Homo sapiens: one gene and its partners. The protein of the gene in region 1 interacts with the protein of each later gene in a biochemical or structural test. Each region holds a gene or a part of one and is shown in the gene's direction. Other genes may lie near its edges.

Evidence for each region.
Region 2: the proteins of SMARCA5 (region 1) and POLE3 form a complex in vitro, tested with the Homo sapiens proteins (2 studies listed by BioGRID).
Region 3: the proteins of SMARCA5 (region 1) and SATB1 form a complex in vitro, tested with the Homo sapiens proteins (one study listed by BioGRID).

What each region holds. Positions count from the first base shown.
Region 1 is NC_000004.12:143,511,662-143,515,408, forward strand, and holds the start of SMARCA5 (SWI/SNF-related matrix-associated actin-dependent regulator of chromatin subfamily A member 5), read left to right. Parts: upstream 1-2,040; 5' UTR 2,041-2,263; coding exon 2,264-2,440; exon of another isoform or gene 2,441-2,564; intron 2,565-2,783; exon of another isoform or gene 2,784-3,176; intron 3,177-3,747. UniProt on the Homo sapiens protein: ATPase that possesses intrinsic ATP-dependent nucleosome-remodeling activity.
Region 2 is NC_000009.12:113,408,917-113,412,663, reverse strand, and holds the start of POLE3 (DNA polymerase epsilon subunit 3), read left to right. Parts: upstream 1-1,988; 5' UTR 1,989-2,047; intron 2,048-2,255; 5' UTR 2,256-2,370; coding exon 2,371-2,436; intron 2,437-2,523; coding exon 2,524-2,609; intron 2,610-2,935; coding exon 2,936-3,054; intron 3,055-3,680; coding exon 3,681-3,747. Other genes in the region: uncharacterized protein C9orf43, read right to left, coding at 1,741-1,745. UniProt on the Homo sapiens protein: Accessory component of the DNA polymerase epsilon complex. Participates in DNA repair and in chromosomal DNA replication.
Region 3 is NC_000003.12:18,423,481-18,427,227, reverse strand, and holds the start of SATB1 (DNA-binding protein SATB1), read left to right. Parts: upstream 1-1,888; 5' UTR 1,889-3,601; intron 3,602-3,747. UniProt on the Homo sapiens protein: Crucial silencing factor contributing to the initiation of X inactivation mediated by Xist RNA that occurs during embryogenesis and in lymphoma.

The sequences.
Region 1 (3,747 bases):
ATTGCTGGACCCCAGGAGGCTGAGGCTGCAGTGAGTCACGACTGTGACACTGCACTGCAGCCTAGGAGACAGGGCAAGCCACTGTCAAAAAACAAACAAACAAACAAACAAAAACAAAAAACCAGCAACGATCAGTTTCAATACTTTTGTAAATATGCTTCCAACTTTTATCTACATTTTTGAACTGTTAAACCAAATTTTTCAGTTAACACTTTATAAATTAACATTCTTTGGCTAGGTGCGGTGGCTCACGCCTGTAACCCCAGCACTTTAGGAGGCCTAGGCGAGCAGATCACTTGAGACCAGGAGTTTGAGACTAGCCTGGCCAAAACAGCAAAACCCTGTCTCTACTGAAAATACAAAAATTAGCCAGGCGTGGTGGTGCACGCCTGTAATTCCAGCTACTCCGGAGGCTAAGTCATGAGAATCCTTTGAACCTGGGAGTTGGAGATTGCAGTGAGCTGAGATCATGCCACCGCACTGCAGCCTGGGCGACAGAAACTGTCTGAAAACAAAACAACACAAAACAACCATTATTCTACATTAATGGTTGTTAAAGGTTAATAGTTCATTTTCTGGGTGTATGACAGTTTTAAACACCTAACTTTTAATACTGGATTCAGCCTACTGTTGTTAGCTTTTTGCAGTCATATATGAAGACTATGATGAACATCATTGTAGGTATTCATCTTTGCATATATCCTTAGACATTTCCTTATAGTCTAAGAACTAGCATTTCTAGTGGAGTGGGGACATTTTTCCAGATGTCCATTTAAGAATTATCATTCCATTAGTTAAAAAATTTGCAGGCTATATATTCAAAGGGGATCCCTTCTGTTTGGAATTCAACATAACCAGTTAGCTCAAACCTCAACTCTCGAAAAATGTGTCTCCTTTACTCAACAAACATTTAGAGAATACTGAATATGAGGAATAAAAAAAGATAAAAAAGACCCTGTACTGGGCAGGTAATCTACTGTAGTATGCAGATTCGTTATCAAACAGACTACAATGTATTTAAATTTTGTAGGCGATGAATGCACAAGGCCCTTAAGCTGCATTGAAGGCTGCCTAAGGCAGTATACAAAATCAGTGCTGAATATTTGTTAACACTTAAGGAGAATGTACGTTTTAATTTTCATGTTTGATGCTTGGGGAAAAGATTACATCGCACCACCTATCTTCCCCATATATTGATTATTCGTGTTTCTCACTTCCATGGTAGTGTGCACGTTATTTGCTTAACTTTGGCATATAAATTCAGAAGAAATATCATTTAACTCTGTGCCTAAGGAGGGTATTTAGAAATAACCGACGCAGCTAACATGAGAAGGCAAAAAAAAAAAAAAAGAAAAAAGAAAAAAATCACACTAACGGACTTTTTTTTTTTTTCTAACAACAAAAAACCGTGAGACTTCACTTGGGGTAACCATAACGTCGTCAAGGCTGTGGCGTCACGCCTCTAAGCGGATACGGCAGAAGTTTTGGGGCCAGACACAAGACTTCCAAGTTTGAATGGGCAGCGCAAAACCCAGACAAGTTTTCCGGTAGTGCCGCCAACCCCTGTCAGGCACAGAAGACACAGCGAGAACCGTGAGCCGTTACGAAAGCCTAAAACACTGAGCTCGCGTCCTGCCAAGCAGCAGGCGCACAAACCTACACCTCCGAGCGCTCCCTGGAGGTCCCGCCCACTCTTCTCTCCCGAGCCGGCTAGAGATCTGGAAGAGGGCGGGCCAAGGGTGAGGAGGGCAGTATGCGCATGCGCGCTCAGGACCCAGTCAGTGAGCCAATAAGGAATCTCGCGAGTGTTGAAAGTCGGTGGCGTAGGTCGTCGTCCTGGATGCTGGCGAGATAGATGTTATCTTCCAGAGGAAGAGGAGGAGGCGGCGAAGCGTTTTCCCAGCCTCAGTCTCTCTTTCGTTTTCCTTTTCCCTTCCCCCAACCCTCCGCCCTTCTCTAAATCAGCCGGCCTTCCTTGACCTCAGTGACCCGTCTGGCCCCGCCCACCCTCGTCGACGTGATTCCCGCCGTGAGGTAAGCGCCGGTGGAACCTAGAGCCCCGCGGAAGAGCAGAACGTTTGGGAGTGTGCAGCTCCTGGGCCCGGCTCAGGCCCGTCGCGGAGGCGCGGCGCAGGGGAGCGCTCGGGTGGGAGTCTCGCTCCTCCACCAGTTTATTGCGACGTAGCATCCAGGCCTAGGCCTCCCCGTCCATCCCCGCCGGACTCGGGCCTCTGGCAGCAGCGGGTGACGCAGACGGAACATCATGTCGTCCGCGGCCGAGCCTCCGCCACCCCCGCCTCCCGAGAGCGCGCCTTCCAAGCCCGCAGCCTCGATCGCCAGCGGCGGGAGCAACAGCAGCAACAAAGGCGGCCCCGAAGGCGTCGCGGCGCAGGCGGTTGCGTCTGCGGCCAGCGCTGGTCCCGCAGACGCCGAGATGGAGGTGAGGGCGACTTGCGGCATGGGGAGCGGGTGCAGCGGGGAGGAGGAGCTGGCTCCCTCGCCGGATCGTGGCGATCGGACGCAGAGCCGGGTTTCTCTCTCTGCACCAGACTCAGCTTCACACCCTGTGGATACGAAATGATGCTCTCACTCTTGCTCCCTTGTTCTTACCCTATTCGAGCTAAGCAAAATGGATTTCTGGCTCCTCACATTTAAATTATTTGTCTCTTTCGTGAATCCTGACAAATATTTGAACGCTCTCAGTGAACAGATGTTCTTGGTTACCGTGGCCCGGGGGACCCATCGTTTTTTTCCCACTAGACTCCCATAATTCCCTCTCCTACCTCTGAATGTGGTTTTTAGTTTCCACCAAACTTCGGGGAAGGGCGAGGAGATGACCCCTTAGGAGCGGGATGCACGGGCGGGGTGAAGGAGGCATTTAAAAGCAGCGCGTCCGAGGACTTGGGCCTCCTTTTCTTCTTCCCGGTCCTTGCAGGGGCGGTATCTGTTGTGGGCAGAAACAATGGCGAGAGCTGGATGGCCGAGTGCGCAGTGGGGATAAGCGGGGCGCAGCTGCTTCTGTGAAGGGAGAGAAGGCCCCTCCCAGGCACTATTCCACTGGAAGGGAAGCAACCAAGGCAGCAGCAGCTGTCTCGGATCCCCCGTCTAATTTAGGGGGGATGAATAAGTGTAGGAATGAATTAGAGAACCAGGCGCAGTTGGTTGGCTCTCAGTCCGGCACTTTTCTCTTTTTGGCCTCTGGCCTTAAGAAAAAAAAAAATTAGTACCACTCGCTGCCGAGACTTATGGGTTTGGGTTGGGCAGGGGATGCTGACAGTACTGAGGGGGCTGGAAAGATGGGGGAAGCTGCCAGGCGGGTAAATTGGATATGCTTCCAGGCTTTGCATCTGGGAACAAAGTAATTGCTCCTTCCAATTTTTATTTTCTTGGCCTTCGACCTGTTTTGAGATATTTTGTGAGTCGGAGCCCAAAGATTTCTGGGATTTTCCTATCCTTAGACAGAATGAAAGTAATACTGCTCCGAAGATGAGTCTTGATGCAGAATCATTATACAGTAAGAAAATGGTAGCGTAATTTACCATTGAGGCTTTTGGCACAGTAGTTATATTTGGGTAGCTGGGGTTAAGTAACATTAATGTTAGTAATCATTTAAAGAACTTTTAGTGGTGAGGGTAGGTTTAGTGACATAGGAACTCCTGATAGTTCCTGTAGTTTTGAGTGATTAAGATAAGATTACTTCCAAATTAAAATATATTCAGTGTTGCTTTTTTTTCCTTAAGGAAATGG
Region 2 (3,747 bases), on another chromosome or scaffold:
CAGGGAATCCCTAAGTAGGACTGCAGAAGCATTAAATGAGATAATGTACTTTTATTCATGGGAGGTGTTCAATAAATATTATCATCTTTTCCTTTCTAGAGGTGTTTTAGGCAATCACTAACTACCACCTTATTCCTAAGAACTTTTTAAGGACAGTGTCCATTTCTTTCTTTTATTCAACACATTTATTGATTACTAAATATGTGAGGGGACCTGCTTTGGACATGAACAGTAATAAACAAACTCCCTGTTCTAAACAGTTTCATAATTTAGATCAAAGATAAACTATCAGCCTGGGATTGCACCTGGCCTATTACTTGTTTTGTTTGGCTAGCACTTTGAATCAATTTTAAATTTGAATCAATTTTAAAATTGAAATAGCCCACAATGTCCTTTTAGGGACCAAAATACTTGACAACACTGAGCCCAATTCCAGTTGAAGAGCAACTGACTAGCGCTGAGCAGCCCTGATGGTTTCAGCCAGGTCTGTTCTATCCAAGCGGAGTTCCCCCACCAGACCTTATGGTCTCTAATTGAAACACTTTCAGTTGCCATTTATCATAGCATTTGCTCTTTTGTTTTAAAATATTTCTCTATAATCAGGCTTCTATCGAAAGCAGGAAAACTACAGGGCGACTTGGGACTGCATGCTTGACGGGAAAAAAAAGCAGCATTAATTCTCAGTGGGAGGCTGGGCGCCGTGGCTCATGCCTGTAATCTCAGCACTTTGCAAGGCCGAGGGAGAATCACTTGAGCCCTGGAGTTCGAGACCAGCCTGGGCAACATGGTGAAACCCTGTCTCTACGAAAAATACAAAAAATTAGCTGGGTGTGATGGAACGCACCTGTAGCCCCAGCTATTTGGGGCTGAGGTGGGAGGACCACCTGAGCCAGGGAGGTCGAGGCTACAGTGAGCCGAGACCGTGCCGCTGCACTCCAGCCTGGGGGACGGAGTGAGACCCTGTCAAGAAATTTTAAAAATTAAAAAATAAATAAAATCAGTGGGAGTGAGAATTTCTACGAACTTAATATAAAAATAACTTAAAAACAACTTAAAACACCATTGCGCCGGGCGCGGTGACTGGCGCCTGTAATCCCTGCACTTTGGGAGACCGAGGCGGGCGGATCACGAGGTCAGGAGATCGAGACCATCTTGGCTAACACGGTGAAACCCTGTCTCTACTAAAAATACAAAAAAATTAGCCGGGCGTGGTGGCGGGCGTCTGTAGTCCCAGCTACTAAGGAGGCTGAGGTAGGAGAATGGCGTGAACCCGGGAGGCGGAGCTTGCAGTGAGCCGAAATCGGCGCCACTGCACTCCAACCTGGGCGACAGAGTGAGACTGTCTCAAAAAAAAAAAAAAAGAAACGCCATTGCAAAACCTTGAGAATGGTTTTAACTGGAAAAAATGTATGATGAACAATTTAACTGAAAAATAAATACAATTTTAACACGGTTTGTTTTTGAAAGCGAATGTGACGTTGCATTCTTCATACAGTGAAAAGGCTGCTTCTCGCCCTTTCGTTACCTGCCCAGTCCGAATTGACTCCTGAGACCTAATCAGGCGCATCTCTATATGGCCAGCATTATCCCTGGGCTGCCTAAATAGTTCGCGTTAAACACAAACAACAACAATAAAATCTAAATAACACTCAGTCTTAGTACCATTATTACAAAAGCGTGAGGGGCGAAAAGATTAAAAATGAACATCAACTTCGGTAGAGATGGAAAAAGACTGCCCACTCCATTCCAGGAAAGAAAAAAGAAAGTGGGAGAATCTGATCACGACGGGCTGAGGTCCTGTGAGAGCAAAGCAGATTCCAAACCGCTTAGGGTTGCTAAATCAAGTGGTAAAACGTGGCCCCTTGCGGCGCGGTGAGATTAACGGACCCGGCGGGCCCAGAGCCTGCCTCGGGTCCTAAAGGGATCCGCCCCGCCGAGTCAGCCACGCCTTCGTCTCCCACGCGCTGCGCCCGGCCGCGCCGTCACCCAGCAGCGGCGCAGGGCACCATGGGAAACGGACGGAAGCTCCATTGAGCCAAATAAGTTGGTGAGAAGGTTCCCGACGCGGCGATGGCGAGAAGCAGAGAAATGGACCTGGGGAGGGGCGTGCGGGGTGCGGTAGGGTTGGATGGAAGCCTTGGCGGGCCAAAACCACTGCGGCTTCAAAATCCGGATGCGCCGGTATTTGAGGCGGAGGCGGGGCTGTGGGGGGAGGAGGGAGGCTATGGCGCTCAGAGCACTGTGGGACACTGTAGGCCACGTGGGGCGGAACGGAAACCTCGCAGGGTCAGACCGTAGCGACGCGGGAAGTCCGGACGCAGTAGCTCCCTGAAGCGGAGGCGAAGGGGAGTTTAAGCCCCAGCGGCGGCAATGGCGGAGAGGCCCGAGGACCTAAACCTGCCCAATGCCGTGATCACCAGGATCATCAAGGAGGCGGTGAGCAGCTCGGGGGGGGCGGACGAACGGGCAGGAGGGAAGCAGGTGCTGGAACGGCAGCTTTGCTCACCCCCGGTCTCCTCGCAGCTCCCGGACGGTGTCAACATCTCCAAGGAGGCCCGGAGCGCCATCTCCCGCGCCGCCAGCGTCTTCGTGCTGTACGCCACATCCTGGTGAGCGGGACAGAGGCATAAGGGAGGCGCGGGGATACCTGGCTGGGAGTTGCTGGCTGGGAGCCTACAAACCCCAACGATTGTGTTCTCCCTCGGTGGGGACATGTTCACAGTCCTCTGCCAGTTTTTACAAGTTCTGAAGCAAAATAACACAACAAAATCACTTTGCTTTAGCTTTTTTGTGCAGAGAAGGGAAGGACTTATCCCTGTCACACCAAAATCCATACATGTAAGAGGCAGGCTTTCCCGTTCCACCTCTGGGTGCTCCTTTTCCCACTCACGCCTTACAAACAAGAGGGAGTCTGACAGCCTTTCTCTTCTCTCAGTGCTAACAACTTTGCAATGAAAGGAAAGCGGAAGACGCTGAATGCCAGTGATGTGCTCTCAGCCATGGAAGAGATGGAGTTCCAGCGGTTCGTTACCCCATTGAAAGAAGCTCTGGAAGGTAACGAGCCTCTTGTCTTCTAAACCACATAGAAGATGGTCATCCTGTGTGACCTGTTCACCAGGCCCTGAGCCTTCTCAGCGCGGGTCCCTTTAAGTCCAGTAAGCCAGCACTTGATGTGACTCGACCCAGTTCGGTGGGCACCACCTCAGATCTGTTTTGTAATGCTGAGCAAGTTATTTTTCCTTCTCTGCCTCCGTTTTTGTTTTTGTCTTGCTTTTCTTGTTTTTGTTTTTTTTTTTTTTTTTTTGAGACGGAGTCTTGCTCTGTCACCCAAGCTGGAGTGCAGTGATGGGATCTCAGCTCACCGCAGTCTCCTCCTCCTGGGTTCAAGCAATTCTCCTGCCTCAGCCTCCCGAGTAGCTGGGACTACAGGCGCACGCCACCACGTGCGGCTCATTTTTTATTTTTGTAGAGACGGGGTTTCACCATATTGGCCAGGCTGGTCTTGAACTCCTGACCTCAGGTGATCCGCCCGTCTCAGCCTCCCAAAGTGCTGGGATTACAGGCGTGAGCCACCGCGCCCATCTGCCTCCGTTTTTCCAATTGTACAATGTAATTAGCTCCTGCAGTCCGTCTGGCTCACTTTCAGCTCTGTCTCCTAACCCCTTGTTCCGTCCTTACAGCATATAGGCGGGAGCAGAAAGGCAAGAAGGAGGCCTCAGAGCAAAAGAAGAAGGACAAAGACAAAAA
Region 3 (3,747 bases), on another chromosome or scaffold:
TCAAATTTAACCTACCATATTTCTATTTCTTATACTTTAGCTAACATATCTTCCTTCAGATTTCCCCACATTTTAACTTTTAAAAATTTACTATCATTTGGGCTTTTTACTAAAAATTTGCCTTAAATTTCTTTTCCTATTTTTGATGCTGTGTTTTCTGTTTATCACATGTTCATTCTTTTGCTCAAGGCTTGGGTTTGTGTGCCAAGATTCACGGTTGCCTTCCCAGATTTGGCTAACCTTTCTGGTTTGTGGGTGAAACGTGGGTGCTATTAGAGTGATATATTTTCATTTTGTTTCTCCTAAACTTACTCTCCCCTAGGAGGCCATCATTTCCTACACTTTTCTGCTTTACCTTTTGGCTTTTCTTTAGATTTGTAATGTAAACAGTGTGCCTAAGAGTGTATTGGTGGCTTTACAGAGCTTAATTTGCAAATTTCCCTTTTATCTCAGTACTTGTGCTAACTTGTTGCTTTTTTATGTGTAACAAAATGTTTATCTGACTGATTTTTCTCTTTTCCCTACCAGCAAATTCTGAAAAATAATTCTTGTTTTTTGTTAATGATTAACTGCCTTCAGGGTGCTAAAATGGTAGAACTAAAACCTAAGCGATAAATGAGGCATTTCTATTTTGGGTTACATTGTAATATTCTTTATTTTTACATGAACTATATTTAATAGATTGTCTAAATAATAGGATCATACTTATGTGGTAATGACCATTTATCTAACTGGGTAACCTACCCTAGATTACAGCAGAAGTGTTTATTGCTACAACAGATGTATTTACCAACCCAAACTTTCCTCTTTTGCCTAGCGTAAATTATTTGAAGAATGATGGCATCTTTTCCTTTATAATAACAAGTCAGGTCTCTTTCAAGTGACCCAAATTTTGTTTAACTCGGCCACGTATTTCTTCTTCCAAAGTATTCTATGGCTCAGAAGTGAGGGCGATTTGAACCAACGTCTGACTAGTACAGAACGCTCTTACTCAGTTCTTTCTAATGTTGGCTCCTCATAGTTTAAGGACCACCCTCCTTAGAGGATAAACATTCCGAGCGTTTCGAGGCTCCTGGCCTTTATTGCTGTACACGTTTCTGCACCCTCCGCGCTTCCCCGGAGAGAACTGCCTTCCGTCTGTACCCCTCCAGCCACTTCCTGATGGCTCCCTACCTCATTCCTCAGCGCCTGTCACCTGCGTACCCGCGCCCTTCTCCCACGGGGCCGGTGCGTCTCCCTGTCCCCCCACCTCGCCTGTCCCTCTGCGACGCTCCAGGCGTACTCCTTTTTGTGGCTTTTGTGGCGTGTGGGTGGTTGGTTAGTTTTCTCCCCTGGCCCTCGCCCCCTCCTCCCCGTCATTTTCCTTCCCCCCGCCCCCCGTGCCCGTCCTGCCCGTCCTGCCCCTCCTCCCTCCCACTCACACACCTGCCCCTGCCGCCCGCGCGCCGCGCGCTCCCCTCCCCGCTCCGGCGGACGCTGCCAGGGAAGCCCCCTCTCCTCCTCCCCTCTGCGCCCTCCCTGGCGCGTCTGGCGGCGGCCGGCGCTAGCCCTCGCACAGCGCCCTGTTATTCTGGGTATTGTGTGTAATAAATGTCGGGCCGCCTCACTCTAATCAAGCTCATTACAAATTCTTGCGCGCCCGGGGCCGGAAATCGTGCGCTCCCCCCATTCCCTCACTCATTCACTAGTTACTTGTCTTTCGGCTTTTTAACTCGCCGCCCCCGCCCCCTCCCCCAATCCCGGCCCTCCAGCCCGGGTTTTAATCCCCATCCCTTTTCCGCCCGCTCCGTGCACCCTGCCCCCCCACGCCGCCTTCCTCCTCGGCTCCGCACCCCCTTCCTCCTCTCCTCCCCCCTCCTCCTCCTCCGCCGCCGCCGCCGCCGCCGCCACTTTCTCGCTCGCTCCCGTTCCCCGGACGCGGCGGATGAGCCGGCCCCGCTGGGGAAGGCTCCGGGCGGCGGCGGGCGGCCGGGAGGAGGCTGCGTGCTCGGGGCTGGGGCTGCGAGCGGGGTGATTTTGTATTAAAATGAGGAGGAGGAAGAAGAGGCACCCACAGCGGCAGCGGCGGCGGCGGCGGCAGCAGCAGCAGGAGCAGCGGCGGAGAGGGCTGCAGCCCGGGCGGACGCGCGGAGCCGAGCGGGGCACGGCGGCGGCAGCGACAGCGGCCGGGATGAGTCAACTAATAATTTAATGGGGGCAGAGACGGCAGCGAGGGGTAGAGCTAGCGAGGGAGAGAGCGAGAGAAGCAGCCCCGTCCGGGGACTCGCGCTCACACTCACGCACACACACAAACACACACACACCTCTCCCTGTGCCACCCAGCAACACCCGGCCTCGTCACAACAACAACAGCCGCGGCCGCCCTCTATCCTGCCCGGGGGCCCAGCCGAAAGCCAGGGCGACTCTAGAGGACGCTGCCCGCCCCCCTCTTTCATTTCGGGAAACTCCTGATCAGTTTTGTCGGGGTTTCTGGGTTTCTTTTCCCCCAAAGTCCTAGTGCCATTGTGGTGCTCGTTGTTTACCTCGGACTCTGGACGAGTGAGAGCTTGGCGACTTTTTGGGGGGAGGGGGCGGGGAGTTTGTCGCTGCCTAGGCGGTGGAGGTGGCTGGGGGTGCCTTCTGATCTTCCTCCTCCTCCCCCTCCCCCCGAACCTCTTCTCTCCTCACTTGCTGGGACCCCAGACGCTCACAGCCCCGCGTCAATGGGCAGGGAGAGGGTCCTTGCGGCTGTTGTCAGCGAGGGCAGAATCAAAAGTGGCATTTTAGTGCCTTTCCGGGGCTTTTCTCGCGACCCCCTGCCCCCCACCCTCGCTGTCCCCCGCTAGATGCCCTCGTTGGGGGTGCGAGGCTGTGGGGAAAAGTTTAAGGTTTGTTAATATTAGTCGCGATTGTTGGCGAGGGGGGTGGGGGTGATTGGAAGGGAGGCGAGGTGGCCTTCCCAATGCGCGTTATTCGGGGTTATTGAAGAATAATATTGCAAGTGACAGCCAGAAGTAGACTTTCTGTCCTCACACCGAAGAACCCGAGTGAGCAGGAGGGAGGGAGAGACGCGAAGAGACCTTTTTTCCTTTTTGGAGACCTTGTCCGCAGTGATTTTTTTTTTTTTAAGAGAATCCTCAGTCACCACGTCGTTTCCCCAGCACCATCACAGTGTACAGCTCATAACGGGTTTTGCTTTGTTTTTACGATTTCCCCCCAACGAATCACTTGTCAGATCAATTTTATCTTCTTCCTCCTCCCTGCTTCCCACTCTCCCCTCCTCCCCATCGCAAACCCTGTTCTCTGAGGTTAGACATTTTACAAACCCCTATATGTTGGTTTTCGAATTGTGATTTTTTTTTTAAACCCCTTTCTCATGGCTACTCTTCTAGACGTTTATTTCTGCCCTTCCCCCGCTTAGGGGGGCGGGGGTAGGGGAAAGGAAAATAATACAATTTCAGGGGAAGTCGCCTTCAGGTCTGCTGCTTTTTTATTTTTTTTTTTTTAATTAAAAAAAAAAAGGACATAGAAAACATCAGTCTTGAACTTCTCTTCAAGAACCCGGGCTGCAAAGGAAATCTCCTTTGTTTTTGTTATTTATGTGCTGTCAAGTTTTGAAGTGGTGAGTTTCAGGTCGGTTTTGCTAATTTCACTCAGTAAAACTGCAGTGTTTCTGTTTCTAGATAGTACTTTGCTTCTTTGTCTCTTTAAAAGGTCACAGTGAAAGCTTGGCCTGGATCGTGCCGGCCATATGGAATGGATAAGGGC